Linked DNA regions of Homo sapiens: region 1 is linked to region 2. The links come from fine-mapping of genetic effects on gene expression. A gene starts in region 2. The other region holds a variant in brackets. All regions are shown on one strand. Distances are between the middles of the regions.

Region 1 (12,019 bases), 87 kb after region 2:
TGGCTCACGCCTGTAATCCCAGCACTTTGGGAGGCTGAGCCAGGTGGATCACCTGAGGTCAGGAGTTCAAGACCAGCTTGGCCAACATAATGAAACCTTGTTTCTACTAAAAATACAAAAATTAGCTGGGCATGGTGGTACATGCCTGTAGTCCCAGCTACTTGGGAGGCTGAGGTGGGAGGATCACTTGAACCCAGGAGGAGGAGGCTGCAGTGAGGAGATCGTGCCACTGCACTCCAGCCTGAGTGAAAGAGCAAGACTCTGTCTCAAAAAAAAGAACTTGGCATAAACACAGCCTTGAACAAGAGAAGTGATCCTGAGCACAGTCCCTTCTAAAGACTTGGTTTGCTCCTCCAGCCCAGCTCCAAGAACTCATAACAGAGACAGAGGAGCTACAACAAAGAAACTAAAGAATGATTTTCACTAAAAACGAAGTGATAAGCTCTGCTTTGATGCTCACACAAGACATAATACATGGGGAGAAAGGAGCTGGGACACATCAACAGTCCCTGAATATCAGCAATGTATCTAGCAGGATAGCATAAGACCAAGGAGATGGTAGTGTCGGGCAAAGAGGCAGACCTCTGATATCTGACAGGAGGTACCAACGTGCAACTGCAGAGGCAGCAAACAGCACAGGAAGAAAAAGACAGGTGTCATGTAGCAGTGGAATGCATTAGTGGGCACACATCAAACACAATTTGGTGACTCCCGGAATAAATCTTGGAGGGAGGCATTTATGAGGGTGCTAGAGGTCCTATATCATTAATAGGTAAGGGTAAAAGTCATGAAATTCTGATTACTCTGGTTATTAGTCATATTTTATTTTATGCATATCTTGCTATCAAATCCATGCTAGTTTCATGTGTGTTCATGCATAAATGTGATTAGTTTATCATCAGAAAGCCATTACTAAGCATCTACTAGGTACTTAAAACTATGCTAAGAATTTTGGACACACAGGAAAAAAATGTAACGGGATGATCTTGCTAATATATGCAACAATTAGTGATGAATTCAATACAGTCTATAATTAAGGGGCTAAATGCGTCATACAGTCTATGACTGCTGTAGGAGTTCAAGAGACAGGGGACAAAACTGGATTTGAGGCATAGGGTGCAGTGTCAGAAAAAACAAGACTTGTATTGACCTTGAAAAATTAATAAGGCTTTTTTATCATAATAAAGCTAATACAGGATCATTATAAAGAATTTGGAAAAGATATTTTAAATATAGAATGTTCTAATTGCCCACAACATATGAGTAATAGTAAAAGACAGGAAAGAAAAGAGAACGTTTTTATCTAGGAAAACAATGTAAGTGAAAGCAGAGAGAAAGTAATTTCATAGTACACACAAACAATATTAATATCAGTGGTTCCAAAACCATGTTCCTCAGGAACACTGGTGTCCTGGACTAGGGTGTGCCTTCATTAAAATCAAATATGAAATTTTCTCATTTGCAAACGAAAAAAAAATCAACAAAAAAAACTTCTCATTTTTAAGGGGTTTTTTCATTTATGTTTCTTAAACCTTCAATATCTGAGATTATTTCAGATTTGTTGCTGGCTATCAACTAACATCAGATGATTTCAGATATTTTGCTGGCTAGCAGCAAAAGTATGTTCAACAAATAGGTAAGGAATACTAATACAAATATTCCAACAATGTTTCATGAGAACACAGGTCAGGTCATGAATGTCACAAGCTCATGAATGGACATTTTAAATTGTTTTGTAGTTGCAGCAGTCACTGCTAATTGCCTACCTTGGATCTATTCTCCCCTTCTTACTTAGAGAACTCCAATTTTGTTCAGGGAAACAAAGTACCCAACTAAATAACCTACATTTCTTGGCCTCCCTCGCTCTGTGTTCATATGTAGGCACTGTCCCTTCCTCCTTCATTCTTCCTCTGTTTTTTTCCTTGACTGGAGAGCAAACCTGTTGCCTAAAGTTGCAGCAGCCAAAAGATGACAGACCAGAAAGACCAGGAGCAAGACAGTAAGATGGAGGAATCATAAAATCACCACACCGCCTGTGGATTTCCTCTTTCCAGACTTACCATTATAGAAAATAATGTATATAAATGAATACATTTTTTAAAAAGCCCTTATCATATAAGCCACCACTGGTCACACCATTGATACATGCAAACATAATTCCAATAGAATGATTGTGTGTAAATTTAATAAGATAAATATTTCTAAGCAATGGTCTTAAAAAATTTTGTGCTACATCAGAGACCACATGATAAAATTTATCAAGAGAATCATGACTTGCTGGTGCTCTGACACCTTACTTTTTTTTTTTTTTTTTTTTTTTTGAGACAAGGTCTCACTCTGTTTCCCAGGCTGGAGTGCAGTGGTGTGAACACGGCTCACTGCAACCTCTGCCTCCTGGGCTCAAGCGATTATCCCACCTTAGCTTCCCAAATAGCTGGGCCTCAGCCTTCTGAGTAGCTGGGGGAACACAGGTGTGGACCACCATGCCCAGCTAATTTTTGTATTTTTTGTAGAGATGGGGTTCACCATGTTGCCCAGGCTGATCTTGAATTCTTGGGCTCAAGCCATCTGCCCACCTCAGCCTCCCAAAGTGCTAGGATTAGAGGCATGAGCCACCACACCCAGCTGATTTCTAACAAATTTGAGAACAGAATCACTGCCTTAGCTTAAACCCAATACAGAAGGAATCTATTTTGGGATCATCTTCTGAATGTTCTTTGTTTTCAAGTATTCTGTACAGTACCAGGCATCAAGAGGACATTCTACTACCTGTCAATGATTATGATGATTACCCACCTGCCTTCCTGAAACCAAAATGGAAATTCAGTAAAACGGATGAGCCATTACTAAGGCCCTCAAAAATGAATTCTCCAAATAGAAATGTTTTACACAAAGAAGTACTCACAAGAGTTGCTCAGAACAAAATATTTTGCTCTTGTTGCAAATCTGCCCCACAATTCTCAAAATGTAAAACTTGTCTCGAGAATTTCATTAACATTTCAAAGCTCAGAAACAATACACACTAGTGGGAGAAACTCTGCTTTCTATGAACCTGAGCTGCCCAAATTCCCAACTTCTGGCAGCAACAACTAGGTTCAGGCTCTGATTCAAAATGAGATCCAGCAGCCTTCCAGAATGATACGACTTTTCTACCACCCTTCCGTTAAAAAGAAAGGTAGTTTTGGGGATCTTATGAGTTAGCTAACACTCACGGAGAGCCAAAAGGAAATAAACTTCATTAGATGTTACAACAGAACTCAGGGTTTCTCAGTCTGGGCACTATTGACATTTGGAACCAGATAATTCTTTGTTGTAGGGAATATCCTGTACACTGGAGGTTGTTTAGCAACAGTCCTGGCCTCTGCCCACTAGATGCCAGTAGGACCACACCAGCTCTGACAACCAAAATTGTCTGGACATAAGCAACCACATCCTGTGGGGGGGAGAGGGGGGAAGGGGGCAAAACTGTCCCCAGTTGAAAACTACAGTAAAGGGAAAGCAAACACTTTACATCTAATTCTCTGACACAATCACTACAAGGAAAATTAGTCAAATAATCGGCAATCTCAAAAGATCTCAACATACTGCCACAGCTATTCTCCATTTCAGTAGAGGAACCTAAATATATTGATTCCAAGTTTATGTTAAATCCCCCACCTTTAATAGTACCTTAACCTCCAGCAGGCCTCACTTCCTCCTTCTTCCTATAGCAACTCTTCTTCTTCAAGGTCAAAGCAACCTCAGATCCAGTGGCTTTTTTCTTAAATCCTCCAATCCTTTTCTTGACCCTTCTAGAGCAGTTGACACTTCTGGCCTCCCCTTGTAACCAAACAGTCTTCATTATCCCCCCAATTTTCTGACCTCTTTTCATTTACCCACTCCTTTTTCCTTCTCCTACTGCCCAGTCCGTGTCAATAACACTCTTAGAACTTATCTCCAACTTAATCAACTCTCCAGATTAACCAAAGTGTGTCATTCTCTATAAAACCTACAGAGCAATGCCTATGGCACAATGAATTCTCAAGGCTACTAGGCCCTCTCTAGAACATCCATGAGCACTTTAGCTCCAACCAAGGTAGCTGTTCTTGTGCTTCAAGAGTCAGCTACCCAGCCTATGTAGTTGTTACTACAATTATGTGATTTCAACATTTCATATGAGTGAAAATAAATTACTTCTATGAAAACTAAACTCAAAGACTTGAATAAGGTGAGCTACTTTTTAAAAAAAACCTACAGTTGCATTTAGAATTCTGCATCCACAAGTCTTTAGCTTCCTTTTTAAAGGGATTAAAACTGGAGTTTGTTATCAATGCATTATACAAGTGGTTTGTTCAAGAAAGAGGAGGCCAGGTGCGGTGGCTCACGCCTGCAATCCCAGCACTTTGGGAGGCCAAGGCGGGCAGATCATGAGGTCAAGAGTTCAAGACCAGCCTGGCCAACGTGATGAAACCCCGTCTCTACTAAAAATACAAAAATTAGCTGGGCGTGGTGGCACGAGCCTGTAATCCCAGCTACTCGGGAGGCTGAGGCAGGAGAATTGCTTGAACTGCGACCCAGGAGGCAGAGGTAGCAGTGAGTAAGATCGTGCCACTGCACTCCAGCCTGGGCTACAGAGCGAGACTCTGTCTCAAAAAAAAAAAAAAAAGGAAAGAAACTATTCTCAAAGAAAAATTATAGGCCCTCTTTCAAAATATTTAATAAATATGTGTATGTTAAAATAAAATGTTACATGCACTTATGAATCATTTTTGTGACTCCCTACTTTAAATAACTTTCTCAATTAACCAAATAACTACCAGATTCTTATGGGACCAAGACAAAAGGATCCCTACTGTATAGTAAATGTTCTGCCTTCAACCATCCCATGTGTCATCTCATTTTGTTCATTCTCTGGCAGTATTCACATTCACACCCACCACTTCGAGTCTTCAAACCTGGTTTTCCCAACCATATTAAAGCCATGTCATCTGTTTTTGCTAGTGCTATTTCCAGTCTTCAGAGCACTGCTGGGGAAAGTCCTATAAATTAATGTTCCCTAAGGCCTTATTAACATGTGGAAAACTTTAATTCATCTCTACTGGATTCTGTATTGACTCCCCACAGAATATGTTCAAACTTTTCACCTTGTCCTTTAAAAAAATTTGTCATGAGTTTATACTGACTGTCTAGATGTTAGTAGTATTTGGAGAAATCTGCCCTTTTTCAGAAAAGCAAACCAATCCAATCTGACAGGACCCTGCTGGATGGTTTCACTCCCAGAACAAGGCCAGTTTGTTCTTGAACATGTACCCAACTGCCTACAAAACAATTCCATGATCTCTATACTGAAAATAGCAGAAACATTTAAAATATTTAAATATTTGAAATATTGCACACCAGGAAATGGTGTGGTACAACTATGGAATATTATAAAGCTATTTAAAGATGTATATTATAGAATATGGAAATAAGCTTATTAATGTTAAAGTGAAAATGCAGACCACAAAACTATATACACAGACTATGATTTTATATGAAAAACCTGCCAGGCACTGTGATGCAGGCCTGTAGTCCCAGCTACTTTGGAGGCTGAAGCAGAAGGACCAGGAGTTGAAGATCAGCCGGGACAATATAGTGAAACTCATTTCAAACACACACATACACACATACACACATACACACACACACACACACACACACACACACACACACCATACATATAAGATAATCCAGCCAGGAATAAACAAAACCGGTAACAGTAACCTGTTACAGCAGTTAAACAATGAGTGATTTCTCCCCTTTTCAAGTTTCTATATTGGTTATTATTTAATGGGGAAAAAAAAAAAAACCTCAATGTGATTTCAAAGACAACCCCAGAGACAGTTTGCTATACCACAGACGAAGCATAAGTTTAGATATCAGGAAGGGCCAAGTTCACGTGGTAGTTCTCCTTTTAGAATAATACTTTCCTTTGATATTGTAATGATTAGATAATGTATTCAAAAGCAATCGTGCCTA[A/G]AACAAGTAGTTATACAACAAATATTCACTTTTTTTCTTTTCCCAGATATGACTTCAACTCCCAACCAATCTGAGGGGCACCTCTAATGACACAAATCACTGAAAATACATTTCAGGGTATAAAATCAAGCAATAGATTTAGCAAATGTTGACTTCAAGTCCCAGGAAATCAGAAAAATTAGAAATTAAATCCTCTTCAACTTGTTTACTAATCATATTAGTTATCTTCTAGTATAAAGATATGAGGAGGAAAAAGAAACTTTACCTAATATTTTATGATACAAAACCAAAAGCAGTTTACATTAATATTAAAAAGCATCAACTGCAGAGATGGCTAAAACTTCTCTAAGCTATACTTAACGAAAGAAATTTCACATATGCCACACAATCGTCTGACTCCAATATTTTTCATTCCATTTTGCATACTACTGCCAACTACCCTTTGTTAAACCACATTGCTCCTGTCAATCCTCCACCCCCACTCCTGCAATCTTCCCCCGCTGCCTACTTTAATTCTAAATGCCTGTATCAGGACTCTCCAGGCAAGGTGACAGGGAGAAAAACTACTGTAAGATCAGATGGAAGAAAAGGCCTGGGTACAGAGTTGAGTGGTTAAGTCTCCCAGGGTCTTTCCAGGCCTCGCCAATCCTAGCCAAAGATCTCAGAGCTGTGACACTCTCTTCCTCATGGATGTTTCTGATCTCTGGGGTTCTGACACTAGCCTGGCAAACCATAAACTGAATCTGTTATGGTGCGGTTATTAAAATTAATGATGAAAAATCTCTACATTTCCTGACATGACACATTTAAAGTCAGGCTTTTTAAAATGTATGTAACACAAACTTTTTTTAATGCCTATTTTAAAAACCTGGAAGGTATACCCACCAAAATAGGAACCACAGTTATCTCTCGGTAGAATTTAAGCTTTCTTCATTATTCTGTATTTTTCTGAATTGAGTTTTACAACAAACTTGTATTACTTTTAAAATCAAATAAAACAATTACATGCTACAGTATATAAGAACCTTGAAAATTATGTAGGCAGGGTGCAGTGCCTCACGCCTGTAATCCCAACACTTTGGGAGGCCAAGGCAGGAGGATTGCTTGAGCCCAGGAGTTTGAGATCAGTCTGGGCAACATGGTGAAACCCCCATGCAAAAATCTGCCAGGCGTGGTGGCACATGCCTGTAGTCTCAGCTACTGGGGGACTGACATAGGAGAATCACGAGCCGGAGGTCAAGGCTGCAGTGAGCCATGATTGCACCACCACACTCCAGCCTGGGAACAGAGATCTTATCTCCAAAAAAAAGAAAAAGGAAAAGAAAATATTATGTTAAAAGAAATAACTCAGGCACAAAAGGCTACACATTGTATTATTCCATTTATATGAAATATCCAAAATAAATAAATCCACAGAGAAAGTCTCTATGTGGTTACCAGGGGATGGGGGTGTGGAGTAGTGGGACTGACTGTTAACAGGTAGAAACTTTCTGGGGTGATAGAAATGTTCTATAATTAGATGGTAGATAGTGATGATCACTGCACAATATAGTAAATGTACGAAAACCACTGAATTGTATACTTTAACATGCTGAATTTTACATTATGAAAATTATCTCAATAAAAAATAGAAATAATTTTTAAATCATATAAATCATGCTGCTTAAATTTTGGAAAAATTGAAATAAAAAAATTAAAAACAGGCATTATAATATGTTTTTTAAGAGGGACACCCTGGCATCAGACCACCTTGTCCAGCATCCCGGCTCTACCACTTATCACAGCTGTGTGAGCTTAGTAATTTACCACCTATGCCTCCATTTCTTCATCTACAAAATGGGGACAATAACAGCACCTATCTCAAAATTCTGACGGAGGATTAAAGATATGGAAAGCACTTAGAGCAAAATAATAATACACATAATAAGTACTCTATTAAGTGTAAGCTACTATTGTTTTTTATTAGCACCAGTTCTGGAGAAAGTATAGAAAAATGAGCACTCAAACCAACTGTGGAAGTACATAGTGGCACAACCTCTCATGTGTCCATATGCATTGCCATTTTAATTGTCTTTATCCTTTTACCCAACATTTCCAGGAAACTATAACAGATATAAAAGAAAAACATACAAAAACCTATGTCCAAGATTGTTAACGTCAGCACTTTCTGTAAAACCAAAGTAGAAAACAATCTAAATGTCTATCTTTTGGGAATTAAATTATTGACATAATACTACACAGACTTTGGTAGAAACACATGTAGTGATATGAAAAGACAACTAAGACCTATTGTGAAAAAAAACACATTGTAAAACTATACATACAGTTATAATCCCATTATTTTGAAACATATGCCGGTTTACATATATAAGATTTTGCAGGTATACTCAATACATTTCCTTCATTAAACTGTTTTTTAAATCAATAATTAATCTAAACACAAGAACAATGTCCTCTGGTTCTATTTCTAACCACTATCCCTTAGTGTCTGCAACACTAAGTAGAATAGGAGGTAGCCAGAACCCAGGGAAATCACCCACAAAGATGAAAATCTACACAGCAACTTGCATACTGGCACTGAAAAACCTGGTATTAATGATTTTAAAAGATAATTTTTTAAAGACTTCACAAAATTCTGGTGCATTAGAAAGAGTTCCAGACTTGGGGTTCCAATTATTTGATTAAGTAAAAGTAACTATATGATCTTGACCAAGTGCTAAATCTGAGAATCCCAGTTTCCTAGAATTTAAAAAAAAAAAAAGGAGTATAATAATCCCTTATAGGATTCCAATGGTTATAAGAGATCCTTATAAAAGAACACTGCAAACTATGAAGAAAACTGACTGTTACTCTGGCTGAAACCACCAAAAACAAACTTAAAAAGACACTACCATAACCAGAAACCCCGACAAATTTTGTTGTAAAACATTGAATAATTTTTTTAAAACTAGGTCTAAATAAATGGGAATTAGGATGTGCTTATGGTATAACCTTGAAGTAAACAATGGTAAACACAAGTGTACCACCTAGAAAACACCTCAAACCACTTTAGAGAGAGAAGGAGGCTGGGCGCAGTGGCTTAAGCCTGTAATCCCAGCACTTTGGGAAACCAAGGCAGGCAGATCACCTGAGGCCAGGGATTCGAGACCAGCCTAGCAAACATGGTGAAACCCCATCTGTACTAAAAATACAGAAGAAAATTAGCCAGGTATGGTGGTGGGCAGCTGTAATTCCAGCTACTCAGGTGGCTGAGGCACAAGAATTGCTTGAACCCAGGAGGTAGAGGTTGCAGTGAGCCAAGATAGTGATACTGTACTCCAACCTGGCTGACAGAGTGAGACCCTGCCTCAAAAAATACTAATAAATAAAAATTAAAAATTTTTTAAAAAATAAAATAAAGAGAAAGAAGAAAAAAAGCTATAGAAAATGAATACAGGACACTAAAAGATTGAGCTGACTTGTGAACAATAAAGAATCTAAATATATCAACTGGGCTATAAACAACAGAATTGATACAGCAACATCAGCAGTTTAGTTTCACGTGCAAAACAATATTAAATGAAAGCTGACAAGGCAAAAATAAACTGAACTTAAAAATTCCTAGCCAGGCACAGTGGTTCATGCTTGTACTTTGAGAGGCTGAGGCGGGAGTATCACTTGAGCCCAGGAGTTCGAGACCAGCCTGGGCAACATAGAGAGACTCCGTAACTACAAAAGATAATTTTTAAAAATTAGCTGGATATGGTGGCACACGTCTGTGGTCTCAGCTACTCAGGAGGCTGAGGTAGGAGGATCAATTGAGCCTGGAAGGTCAAGGCTGCAGTAAGCCATCATGCCACTGCACTCCAGCTTTGACAACAGAGGGAGACATTGTCTCAAAAAATAAAAATAAAACATCCCAGAAGGAGATCTGACCTCTGAACAACAGTGGCTCCAGCATAAACAGAAAATGCAAAGCAAAACAACATGAATATTTTTTTAAAAGTTCAGGCCGGGTGCTGTGGCTCACGCCTGTAATCCCAACACGTTGGGAGCCCGAGGCGGACCAATTATCTGAGGTCAGGGGTTCAAGACCAGCCTGGCCAATATGGTGAAACCCCATCTTTACTAAAAATACAAAATTAGCTGGGCATGGTGGCACGCGCCGGTAATCCCAGCTACTCAGGAGGCTGAAGCAGGAGAATTACTTGAACCTGGGATGCAGAGGTTGCAGTAAGCCGAGATCACGTCATTGCACTCCAGCCTGGGCAAAAAGAGCAAAACTCAAGTTCAAAAATTTTCTGATGAAAAATGAAATAATTTAGCATAAACACTGAGATTAAAGAAGAGAATGGCAATTATCCCAGATTTCCTCTTCATATTTTTCCATATTCCTCAAATTTTCTACACAGATTATATACTGCTCTTATAACAAAGAAAAAAGGTGTGGGTTTTTTCCCTTTTTTAATCCATGGAAAAGACAGACTCAGAATATTTGCAAAAAAAAAAAAAGAGAGAGAGAAATTGAGCTGTGGTTGAAAATATAATAACCTGCCAAAGTTTTTAAAGGTACAAGAATACGTTAAGAACTTTAGAACCTTAAATGACTTCTGAAAAAATGACAAGGCTGCTGAGCCATGGAAAATACATGATACTTTTTAAAAAATAGATGAATTTGAATAGTAGCAAAGGAATTACAATAAATTAAGTTACCTAATAAACTAAAAGCATATACGGAGAGAATTTTCAGATTTAAGTATAGAATTTCCAAGTACATGAGAAGTATGCCAAGCCCCTAAATGCTCAAGAAGCTAATAATAGAATTATATGAATAAAGAAAATAGTTAAGTTAAGACAATGTTTCTAACAATGTAAAAAATGAAGGGGGATAAATAGGTTGAAGTTATCTCCCAATCCAGCTTAAAAGAAATTGAGAATTTAAATTCCATTAAAGAAACCACATATATAGGGAAAATGAAGGATAACAAATAGGAACTTAAATGAAGATGGTTGGTTATAACAAAGAAGACAATAACAAAGGTTGGTGAGGATGTGGAAAATGGAATGTTCACACATAGCTGATGAAAATGTGAAATGCTGCAACCATTTACAATAGTTTGGCAAATCCTCAAATGTTAAACATAGAGTTTTACATGGACAGCAGTTTGGCAAATCTTCAAAATGTTAAACATGGAGTCACCACGTGACCCAGGAATTCCACTCCTAGGTGGAATACATACACCCAAGAGATATGAAACAATGTATTTACACAAAAACTTGTACATGAATATCCATGGTGGCATTATTCATAATAGTCAAAAAGTAAAAACAAAAAAATGTCTATCAACAGATGAATGGATACTGAATGGATAAACAAAATGTGGTATTATCGAGACAATGAAATATTATTCAGTCAAAAAAAAGGAATGAAATTCTGATACATCCTACAACATGGATTAACCTTAAAAACATCATGCTAAGAGAAAGAAGCCAATTATAAAAGGTCATATTGTATGATTCCATTTATATGAAATGTCCAGAATAGACAAATCTACAGCAAAAGATAGTAAATCATGGCCAGGGTTGGTAGCTCATGCCTGTAATCCCAACATTTTAGGAGGCCGAGGCAGGCAGATCACTTGAGGTCAGGAGTTTGAGACCAGCCTGGCCAACGCAGTGAAACTCCGTCTCTACTAAAAATACAAAATTAGCCAGGCGCAGTGACAGGCACCTGAATCTCATGCCGAGGTATGAGAATCTCTTGAACCGGGGAGGCGGAGGTTGCAGGGCGCCAAGATCACACCACTGTCCTCTAGCCTGGAGGATAGAGACTGTTTCAAAAAAAAAAAAAAAAAGTACGTCAGTGGTTGCCTAGGGCTGGATGAGGAGAGGTGGGGATTGGGGAGTGACTGCTAAAGAATGTAAAGTTCCTTGGCCAGGCGCGGCGGCTCACACCTGTAATCCCAACACTTTGGGAGGCCAAGGCAGGCGGATCACCTGAGGTCAGGAGTTCAAGACCAGCCTGGACAACACAGTAAAACCC
Region 2 (11,773 bases):
AAAAATATGAATATTCACACTAAGTTGGGATAAAAGCTAGAAATAGCCTCCTGCTACTTTAGGTCAGGTTTTTCCACTGAATAATTTCAGGTCAAGTTAGGTCTTGCTGTCAAATATGTTATTAAAAAATATTTTAAAGAATTTTTGAATATGGGTGTTACAGAGCATGGATTTTGGACTGGTAGAAGGAAGAAATGAGAAAAGAAAAAAAAGGACAGATATCAGCCAGTGAGGCAGGGGGAACTCCCAAAGAGAGGAGTAACCCCAGAAGTCAAGAGGAAAGAAGTTTCAAGGAGAAAGGGAGGGGCTGGGTGCAGTGGCTCATGCCTATAATCCCAACATTTTGGGAGGCTGAGGTGGGAGGATCACTTGAGGCCAAGACCAGCCCAGGCAACAAAGTGAGACCTCCACGAAAATTTTAAAGTGTAGCCAGGCAAGGTGATGCGCACCTGTAGTCCCTACTACTTGGAAGGCTGAAGAAGGAAGATGGCTTGCCCCCAGCAGTTGGAGGCTGCAGTGAGCTATGATTGCACCGTAGAACTCTAGCCTGGGCAACAGACCAAGACCCTGTCTCTTTAAAAGAGAGAGAGAGAGAGAGAGAAAGAGGTCCAATCGTGTCAAATGTGTCAAAAGAATAAGGATGAGAATTGGATTTGGGACATGACACACACTGGAAACCTTGAGAGCCAGCCCAACCACAGCAGCTAGAGGAACCCAACTGAATAGGGAGCATTTCTCAAACTAAACAGACAAAAGTTGAAAAATCATGAGATTTTTAACTGAACCACGAGTTAAAATTTCTAAAAGAAACTGTGCCCCCACGTGAGATCCAGATTAAATCTATTCAATCAAAAAATATATAAATATATACAAAACACATTTATGCATATTCCAAAACCTATCAGCCTGATAGTCAAGAAGATATCCCTGGAACCTTATTTCTTTGGATACTTATTTAAAATTAAATTCTTTGGCTATAGGATTAGAGAGTCTAGGAGCTAAAAAAGGCAGGGGTGGGCGTCTCATAGCTCTCTGATGAATCAGTTTGAAGCAGCGAAATTATTCCTCTCCTTTCCTGACACCTGCTGCAGGGAGTAGCTTCAGCAACACAATGTGGGTTGGCACGGCCTGAGAGGGTATAATTAGAAAACGAAAGAGCCAAAAGTTAATTACTGTTAGATAGGGGAAAAAACACAATCTTGCTGTGAAGAAATCAGATATAGCTTAGCCCAGGAATCACATACCCTCCTTTAAGTACACAACAAATAATATAAAATCAGGCTTTAAAGTAAAACAAAACAGGAGTAGAGTCAGAAAAAAGTACTTGTTACGCAGATCTATTAGTTGCAACTCCAATGAGACAGCGACATCATGAGCTAATGGTGAATAGACTGTTATAATAACTGAAGATTGTAGATGTTGAATTATAGTTGACTTCCAAATATAATTGTATCTTTTAATATAAAACTCCAGGTAAAAAGACCATTTTTGTAACAGAATGAATACTGTGCTTCAGAGTACTGTGGGCTGGATTGAACATCAAACTAATATAGCTATGGGATGTGAGGGCGATTGGCTGCAACATCTGTTAACCCACTGATTGCCAGGGTTGATTCAGCTGATCTGGCTGGGCTAAGTGGGTGTCCCCTTCCTCCCTCACCGCTCCATGTGTGTCCCTCTCGAAGCCGCACGCTTGGTCGAAGAGGATGACCATCCACGATAGAGGAGGACCAGTCTTTGGTCAAGGGTATACAAGCAGCTGCACTCCCCTGCTAGAACTTCCAAACAAGCTCTCAAACTAATATAGCTAGGGAAATTCTGAATATACAAAAGTCTGAGGCTTATTAGTGAAGATATAGTATGTTCGAAAAGAAATAATAAATGTATAAGAAATAGCAGGTAATTTTTACTATGGCTGAATTGCTTGGTTTCAAGTTAATTTTAGCAGAAGGAGCAATCTCAATATAACCATTTATATACCTTAACTATGATGATTAATTATAACTAATTTTAACTGCTAAGAATAACCATGTGACCATGTATACAGCTTTCTAACATCTAATGAATCTTTGAATCAGAGTTCTATGTCCATTATTCTTTTCTCTACGAGCTGTTCCATTATAAATGATAGCAATTACTTTTTGACGAACTGCTGCTACTCTGAACAACTTAATTATGCAGAATCTTCATGGCATTATTTCTTACAAGAGAAGAGATGTGCCCTAAACTAGCACCCTTCAGTTGCTTTAAATAACTACAAGGGATCAAAGAAAGGAACAATTAGCAGTAAGTTACAGGGACTAAACAGGTGAATACAGAAACATCTTAAAGTTTAAAGAAGAGTTATGTCAATCAACAGAGTCAATGGAAACTTTTCAGAAACTTCTTTGCTCTTGCTTTTGTAAATCTTAATTGGCACTTAGTCCACTGCTTTGCACAAAAGTTCTCAGCAGTCGTGAATGCCAAATATGTTTCCTGGCCATGCGCCCATGCCAGTGGAGGGTAAGATATACCCACAATTCTGAACATCTTCAGAAGGCAAATCAAAGAATGGATACTACATTTCCCACTACATATACTAACACTGGAACTGGCCTCTGAAAATCAGGTGACTGATTTTTTTTCAATTTTTCAATTTTTTTTCTTAAGACAGGGTCTCACTATCACCCACGCTGGAGTGCAGTGGCACAATCATGGCTCACTGTAGCCTCAACCTCCCCACAGGTGACCCTCCCACCTCAGCCTCCTAAGTAGCAGGGAACACAGGCACGCGACGACACACCTGGTTAACTTTTCTATTTTTGTAGAGACAGGGTTTTGCCACATTGCCCAGGCTTTTTTTTTTTTTCCCAAATTTTTAAGCCTATAGAAGGACTTCCAGGGACATGAAAGGAAAGGGAAATGATAAAGAACTTCAAATAGCATAGTCTGCCCTATCTACCTTTGAAATAAGCAACTCTTCACTCTCCTATTACTTTTCCTAAATAACCTACAGGCTCTTAAAAACAGACCTAAAATACCACTCCACCATCCCAGTGTAACCTTATCAGTCAACAGAGGGCTATGGAGAATTGCCTAATGTGTAAAGAATGCCACGGGGAGTTATGGGCCACATCCCTCGTGTTTTACAAATTATCCTCTACATAATCCAACTGTGTTCCTATTTCATTTAGTTTATATTCTTCTAGTTTTTTTCCTATGTACATAAGTACTCATTTTTAAAATACAGGTGTCATTTTTAAAAATAACACTTTATATGCATCAGTGAACATTCCTACACACATTCCTGATTTTATGCATAGAACAAATTCTTTGACATAAATTTTGGGGCCAAAAAGTTTGTGAATTTTTAAATTTCTTAATACATACTACCAAATCTGCCTTTCAAAAATGTTTTATCAATTAATATTTCTACCAACAGAATATGAAAGTGTTTTTTCCCAATCCTTAAATTAACCTCTGGGTATAGGTTTTAATAACTGCCAACATTTAAATAGGTGAAATTAGAATTTTATTCTTATTTGTGTTTTGTAAACTGCCTGATAATGACAGTTTCCCACTTTTCTACTGTGAAGGAATGTTCAATTTTTTTCCTTTTAACTGTAAGAGTTTTGAAAATATACCATAGATATTATGCATTTGCCATAAATATGTTCCTATTTCCAAAAATATGAGTGCCAAGCGCAGAATAATATGGGAACTTAGCTCAATACACAATGCCACACACAAAATATTATATTAAATCACTTAAGTAAAAAGACTTTGTAATCAAACATAGGAAACTACTTATGTGACTCATATATTTGTATTACTATAATAATAAGAAAAATAATTGCCTCATTGTTCATTGGAAAATCGCTATCATTGTGATCTATATGTAAAAATTCCAATACACAAATCACATTCTGAAAAGTTTATATCTACTGTTTAGGCCTTTCCAGGCTCTCCATATAAGCAGAAAAAACCACTGCTACTGGTTGTCAGTTTCTTCTTTTAGAGAACAAAGAAGTGTTTTAAACTAGAGGCTTCTGAGTCTTCTTCTAGTTCTAACATTTTCAAAGTCTATGAGAGGGCTTCATGCTAATAAGGCTAATATGCTGAAAGGGCCTTACCAATATTAAGTTTCAAAGGCAAGAAATAGCCTAAGCTATGAGCCACAGTTCATATTACATGAAATGGTTGAGAAGCTCAAAATACCGAAATGACAGATAGTACTTTGGTTAACAGAGAAATGGTTTTATCCTGAGATTGCTGCTAATACAGAACTCCATTGTATTAATATATACAATAGTTAAGATGTGACACTGGAAACCTCTGATATGACTTTTGGCAATTAAAAGATGCAAGAGATTAGAACAAGCAAGCTGAACACAAGTGCAAGCTTACCTGGAATATTACCACGCGGAATTTGTTTTTCTTCATTATTTCCTCTTGCTTGACTTCAACTTTTTTAACATGAATTTGTTGCTTCTCCACCCGGGCTTTCACATCTTTAATGTGAGCACTAACTTTTCGGGTTTTCTCAAACAATTTGTTAATGATATGCCCTGTATTGCTATGCGACTGTGAAAGCTTCAACAGGTCAATCTGGACGGATTTTATGGCATTTTCCATTTCCCTGTGTCTCTCTTCTATTCTCTTCTGGCTTGCCTGCACACTGTCCACGATGGAGGCTACTTTGTCCAGCACAGTCACAATGGTAAGAGCAGCGTCTTGGTCTTCATCTTCTGTAACACTCGACAGGCGATTCTGGTGGATTTTATCAGCATTTGAAGCAGACCCATTATGTTCCATTTTATTTATTTCTCAGCGTAAGATGTCCTAACCACAATCAATTCTGGCACTTGGAGCAAAAAGTCAGCTTGATAACAGGCAACAGGGTTGTTTAAAGAGTTGGAAACCCCACCCCTAGAGAACGGTCAAGTATTTATAACTACAAATACCCATATGTGACTGTTCTGCAATCTGAACCCTTGCAAAGCACCGGGGACTGTTCCAAACATGCTTGCTGACTGACTAAGGGACTCAAATAAGACTGTGTGGGTAGAAGAGTAAAGCTTTTTAAAAAAGTTCACTAAAGCCACCATGTAACTAATATTAAACCTAGAAGCCAAATGATCAAAAAAGCAAACTCCAAATGTTGGGTAAAGCTTTTGCCTTTAGATAATTTCAATCAGTATTTGTAACAGTAAAGGGGAATTCTGAACCGAAATCTGCTTTTTCTACTAATTTCACATATTAAATATACTGAAACACCAATATCAAAAAATTTGGTAAATAAACACACCAAAACAGAGGCCATATAGTGAAAACATTATATTATAACATGCTTTTCCAAACAAAATATTAAAATTAATAATTTTTAACATATTCTTTAAATTCTACATGCATACTTTTGAATATCTAAACTACATGTTAAACAGCTGAATACATTCTACTCACACTTCAGATCTTTAAACACCAACAATCTATGAATATTAATCTATTACTACAGGACAAATTTGGATATACGTCTTGGATAAATTTTAAGCTCACTTTAAGAGCACCAATCATTAACAATCATTTTTGTATTTTATTCACAAACACTGATACGATTTGTTTATTTATGTTAAAACAAACATTTTCTTTAAAAATGAATGTGTATTAAAGTAGTTTAACTGGTAGAATAGGCTTTATTCCAATCTGTTTGTTAAACAGCCTATTTTCACAATATCTATATCTACTTTTCATTGATCTGTTCCATCATTACTAACATATTTGTTCAAATTATTAGGACTATTTTTTCAAAGGGAGGAATAATCAAATTCCCCAGTCCATATATCTTATAAATATTTTACACCTAATACACACAGCTTTACAGTTCATGCGATAGGCAGTGTCTAAAAAATCAGTTACTAAATCTCAAAAACATTTAAATATCTATTTAAACACAGTGTCTTCTAGATTTTTTTTGTAAGAAAAGTAATCTGTAAACATCTTTACCTTTAGTTCATGCTTGGTCATTTGCTGTGGTCATTGTGGAAGAAGTGGATATGACTTTATAACCATTTGTGAAGTAGTCCATCTTTGCAAAAATATTACATTCCATGGGTAAAGAACAAGTCTTAGAATTACCATGTGGTACAAATTTGTGAAAGCAATTTCTGTATTTAAAAACATAAAACAAAGACTACTAAACAGTCCAAAACTGTCGTAGCTGAATATTCTAAATACGAGCCAACAGTACTACACTAAAAATGTCCAAAAATAAGGCCTCTGAAATAAATATTTCCATTCTTTAAAAAAAGACATAATAAATGTACATCACATGGTCAGTGTACATATAAAAGTCATCAGTTTAAACCATTCTGGATGACGTATCTGAAGTAAAATGACCTAGGTTTTGCTTCTGTCGACGTCCTCTATTGTTTTTGGGGCATTTTCTGTTGCATTAAAAAAAGAAAGAGAGAAAAATATTGTTTTGATGATTTTGTTCAGGATATTTCAAATGTTTCCAAAGTAATACACATTTTGCACATAAAGCCACATTGCAAGCAATTACATGAAAGGGAAATGAGATGGTATCTGTTGCAAGACAAGATGAAGATGAACACAATTCAGACTGCTACCTCCTCTACAAACCTGGAAGTTGAGAGGATTAGATATGTAATATAGGTACTGGCACAAGCAAAACTCATTACCAGTGTCTATGCTACTATGTATGCATCCCTGACAGATATCCCACCCTTCCTCCAGCCTAGAAACTCCCTAGTCACAGTGACTGATAACATGAAACCCCTGACAGGAGAAAGGACTCTGGCCTATGTACTTTCCCTGTGCATTATGAGAAGACAGCTCTAAAATGACAAGAAGAGCTTAGATGAAGGGAGAAATCAGGAAGAAGTGTGCTTATTAACCTCAGCTATGAATACATAGGAATGTCTACTGATTTTAGACAATGACTCAAAAGAAGCTGTCCACACCCTCCTGGGGCAAACCACAGAAGCCCATAAGGAACTGCCACACTGAGGATAAGGGACATTCTTTAACTCTGCTCTCATTTTACCACGTTTCTCAACAGCAGTACAAATCTCACTGGGTTGGAACTGCTCTTGTGCCTGCACACTAGATTGCAAACACAAGATGCTGTGCTATGCAATGTGGAGTAAGGGGGCTAAGACGAATTCTGGGCTCTGCTAATAACTAACTGTGCAACCTCAATTCTCCTATATGTAAAAAATAAATTAGGAGTTGGACTAGCTTCCAAAATCTCTGCCAGCAAGAAATTTACAACCTAATGGAAAGAAAGTCTTATAACAATGAGTACTCCTCATTTCGTTCGATTTCAAAGAGTACAGCTTTGCCTTGACTAAAAGTGTTGACAATACTTCCATTTTGTATATGGTTTTACCTCACTAATCCTCATTTTAAAAGTGTGAGGTAGACAGAGTTGGAATCATCTCCATTTCATAAATGAGAAAACTAGCTGACAGATCAAGCAACCCTCTTGTACTGTCACTAACTCACCATGACCTTGGAAAAATTCCAATTTCCTAGTGCCATGGTTTTTAAATCCATAAAATCAGGGCGTTTAGTTAAGGTGATGTTCAAGGTTCCTGACAATCTGTCATTCTATGAGTCTGAAAATATGAAAGGCGATTCCAAGAAGAAGAAAAAAAGAAAAATTGACTCATGCAGTCTTGATAAACAGGTCAGTGGGAACATCCTTTTAAAGAAGATTCCTCCCATGTGACAGCCGCCACGGTATATGTCAACAGCTGTCTCATAATGGACTGTGTGGGAGAGATACTTAAAAACTCAATGGAAATAAATCCAAGTACATAAATGTTCTAAATCCAAGATAGCAAGACATTCTAGGGGAGGAAATACCATAATAAAAAGACAGGCCTCCAGGAGAAATCTGTGATAAATTCAATGAGATGACTCTTCAATCGTAGAGACAGTGGGCAGTAAAGACACTGTGACATAGTTAGAAATACACTGTGATGTCTAAGTGGCTGTGAGGGCAACAAGGAGGGATCTGGAGTATAAACTAGAGGGTACCTACTTCAAAACTGCCTGCCAGGTAATTTTAATTGAGTAGTTGAGCATTATAGCACTGAAAGAGTTGGGTAAAAGACTGTTGTAAGGGGGCTTTCCTAGCTCTAGGACCTTAGACCAAGGTACTTCTTATCTCAGGGCTTCAGTTTCCCAACTTCTCTAAATGAAGGGGTTGAACTCAGAATTGTTTCTCATTGACTCTGACATCCTTTGATCCTCTTAAAAATGGCACTATCTGGCTGGGCACAATCCCAGCACTTTGCGAGACCGAGGCAGGTGGATCACTTGAGCCTAGGAGTTGAAGACCAGCCTCGGCAACATGGCCAAACCCAGTCTCTACAAAAAAAAAAATACAAAAATTAGCAAGGCATGGTGGCGCATGCCTGTAGTCTCAGCTACTCGGGAGGTTGAGATAAGCCCAGGAGGTGGAGGTTGCAATGATCCAAGATCATGCCACTGCACTCCAGCCTGAATGACAGAGTGAGACCCTGTCTCAAATAAAGGCACTATCTCCAGGCCTCAAACATCTCCCCTTACTTTACCTTAATTTTCCTTCTGCCTTCCAAATCATTCATTACCTCACTCCTATTTAACTCTAATAATGACTTAAATGGTCTTCCCCCTACCTCATATGTTCACTACTCCAATGAATTTTTCAGATGACTCATTAATACTCTGAAAAATATGGTTTATACCAAGTCCTTCCCCTGCTCAAAAACCCTAAACTGCTACAAAATCAAGTTTGAACCCTGCTCCCATGCAATGGTCATACTGGGCAAACATGTTTCCCAAGATGACTCAACATGGAACCTTTCAGTGTAAAGAATGAATGGGAATCAAACTGAATCCAAATCCAGACAATTCCACTTACTAGTCGGATGACCACAGACAAATTACTTAACCTCTGAGTCTATATTAAATGGCTACAGCCAGTCATGCTGTTAAATGTGTTTTCCCTATCTTCTCTTTCTGTTATCATTATTTGTTACATGATTATGTCCCTACTTTGATCTACCGTCCAATTTTATATTCAGTAGTCTTGCCTAAGGGCAGATCATCTGTTCTGTGAAATAAAGCGCACTGACTTTCATGCCTAGGTGTTATGAAAAATATCTGTTACTTGGAGAACCTTTTCTTTTTTATCATTTCTAGATTTATCATCTCAGCTCCAGATGGCTGAGACTACTGAAGGTCTGGCTTCTATCCAGACCTTGGATAGAAGGGCCACAAATCCATTATGGCCTGCCAATATCTGTATTTGATATGCTTCAACCCTCTGCCCAGAATAATGCAGGGAAGTGGAGAAATGATGCTTATGAGACTTCTGAACTGAAGCTTAAAGAAAGAGGTAAGCAGGAAGAAAAGCATTAGACTGGGAAGCACAAAGACAACACGAACTTGCTGGATTTACTCTGACTTTTCTCAGGCCCAGTTCAGTCTGACTTATGTATTTCTACTCAGTTTAGAAAAGACCCATTTTATGCCACTGCACTCCAAATAAGTCATTTAATTTATGACGAATAATTTTATTTATAATACAGAATTTTAAAGCTTATTACTTATCGCTGCAATCCTGAAAATGAAGTAATGTTAACACCATGATATCACAATAAAACTATCTTCAGCCTCTGATTTCTTCCTTTCTTACTATACTAACTGTGAGTAAAGTACGTTCTTAGGGCACAGAACCCCTTGCAGTTGTGCAGGGCTTAAAAATCTTCTGCATGGATCTCCTATGCATGTGCAGATCATTCTAGAAATTCTGAGCCAGTCAGGGTGGTTCACGCCTATAGTCTCAGCTACTCTGGAGGACCACTTGAGCCCAGGAATTTGAGGCTGCAATGAGCTCTAATTGCTACTGCACTCCAGCCTGGGCAACAGAGTGAGGCCCTGTCTCTTAAAAAAAAAAAAAAAAGATTGCTACTAACATTATTTTCCCAGAATACAGTGTTCAAAGACTGTATACAGTTCTCAGATCCCTAAATTCCTTTATCTCATTGACTATTCTCATTCCCTCTCTGCTTGTCGCCCAGATATACCTGTAAGACTGGGAATTAGTCCCTGCCCGTATCCTAAAGAAGAAGGATAGGGAGAGACCACTGAAAACCTCAGGGAACTGATCATAAGATTTTTCCTAATAGACTGGTGGCCTCAAAGCATCTATAAATAAACAGTTGCCTGCCTCTAATTTAAAGTTGATATTTCTTACATCATTACCTACCTTGTTATGCACATTACAATTGCTACTATGATGGCAATCTGTACAGCTCCAATAATTGCTGCAATAAGAACATGAGTGAGCTTTTGCCTACTTGGCACTACATAGAGAATACTAAAGTCTGTCTTTTCACAGTGCTGTCCAGTGTAGCCAGATTCACATCTGAAAAGGAAAAATATATATATTCCTATGAAAATTACAAATTTTGATACTCCCAAGCTTTTACATTAAAAAATACAAAATAGTAATAAAATTTAAACAGGAATAGGATATCATGCACTTTCCTACCATCTGGGGGAAAAATGTCATTTGTATGTTTCCCTACTGTCTTTCTGATATGCCTACATGGTGCGTCTTTCACCTAAGTTATATCACATTAATTTTAAAGTTGCTGAATATTGTTAATGTATATCTTTTTTTGTTATTGTTGCTTTTGCTTTTGGTGTCATATCTAAGAAATTATTGCCTAATCTAAAGCCACAAAGATTTACTCCTTTTTTTCACTTTTTAAATTAAATTTGCTTAAAAATTGACAAATAAAATTACGTATATTTATCATGTACAACAGGGATCCCCCCCAACTCCCGGGCCATGGACAGATATTGGTCCATGGCCTGTTAGGAACCAGGCCACACAGCAGGAGGTGAGTGGTGGGCAAGTAAGCAAAGCTTCTTTGTATTTACAGCTACTCCCCATCACTCACATTACCACCCAAGCTCCGCCTCCTGTCAGATCAGCACTGGCATTAGATTCTCATAGGAGCGCAAACCCTATTGTGAGCTGCGCACACAAGGGATCTAGGTTGAGTGCTCCTTATGTGAATCTAATGCCTAAGGATCTGTCACCGTCCCCCATCACCCCCAGATGGGACTGTCTAATTGCAGGAAAAACAAGCTCAGAGCTCCCACCAATTCTACATTATGGTGAGTTGTATAATTATTTCATTAAGTATTACCATGTAATAATAATAGAAATAAAGTGCACAATAAATGTAATGCACTTGAATCATCCCCAAACCATCACCCCCACCCCCAATCCCCAGTCCATGGAAAAACTGTCTTGTACGGAACTAGTCCCTGGCAACAAAAAGGTTGGGGACCACTGATGTACAACATGATATTTGGAAATGTATAGACATTGTGGAATGGCTAAATCAAGCTAATTAACATATGCATTACCTCATATAGTTATCATGTCTGTGGTGAGAACACTTAAAATCTACTCTCTTAGCATTTTTTTCAAAATAGATACATATAATTTCAAAACAGAAATATAATACTCCATCCAGTGACTATAATATAGCTAGCATTATCTATTCCCAGTTCTAAGACATGTCAGTTATTTTCAATTTTTCACAATTATAAATTAGATGTGGTAAACATCTTGGTGAATATGCGCTTTTCTATATTTAGTGTTATTCCTTAGGGCTAAGTACCTGAAAATTAAGACTATTGAAAAAATAGGTATAAACATTTACAGTCCTCTGAACATAGCACCAAATTATATTCAAGACAC

Evidence for each region.
Region 1: its variant is fine-mapped to the expression of CAVIN4 in stomach (GTEx, PIP above 0.99).

Annotation. Positions count from the first base shown.
Region 1 is chr9:100,484,509-100,496,527 of GRCh38, reverse strand. The region is part of intron 1 of MSANTD3-TMEFF1 (MSANTD3-TMEFF1 readthrough); the gene reads right to left. The region is part of intron 1 of TMEFF1 (transmembrane protein with EGF like and two follistatin like domains 1); the gene reads right to left. Among named protein-coding and RNA genes, the nearest start is that of TMEFF1, 17 kb to the right of the region's middle. RefSeq lists an enhancer at 4,063-4,563. The variant A/G (reference allele first, on the strand shown) is at 5,998.
Region 2 is chr9:100,571,165-100,582,937 of GRCh38, reverse strand. It overlaps CAVIN4 (caveolae associated protein 4), which reads right to left and starts at 4,859. Exons shown (of 2, transcript NM_001018116.2): 1 at 4,387-4,859. The coding sequence starts at 4,794. MSANTD3-TMEFF1 (MSANTD3-TMEFF1 readthrough) reads right to left here. Exons shown (of 10, transcript NM_001198812.1): 9 at 10,262-10,420; 10 at 5,302-6,422. The coding sequence ends at 6,338. It overlaps TMEFF1 (transmembrane protein with EGF like and two follistatin like domains 1), which reads right to left. Exons shown (of 10, transcript NM_003692.5): 9 at 10,262-10,420; 10 at 5,302-6,422. The coding sequence ends at 6,338. It also overlaps the pseudogene RN7SKP87.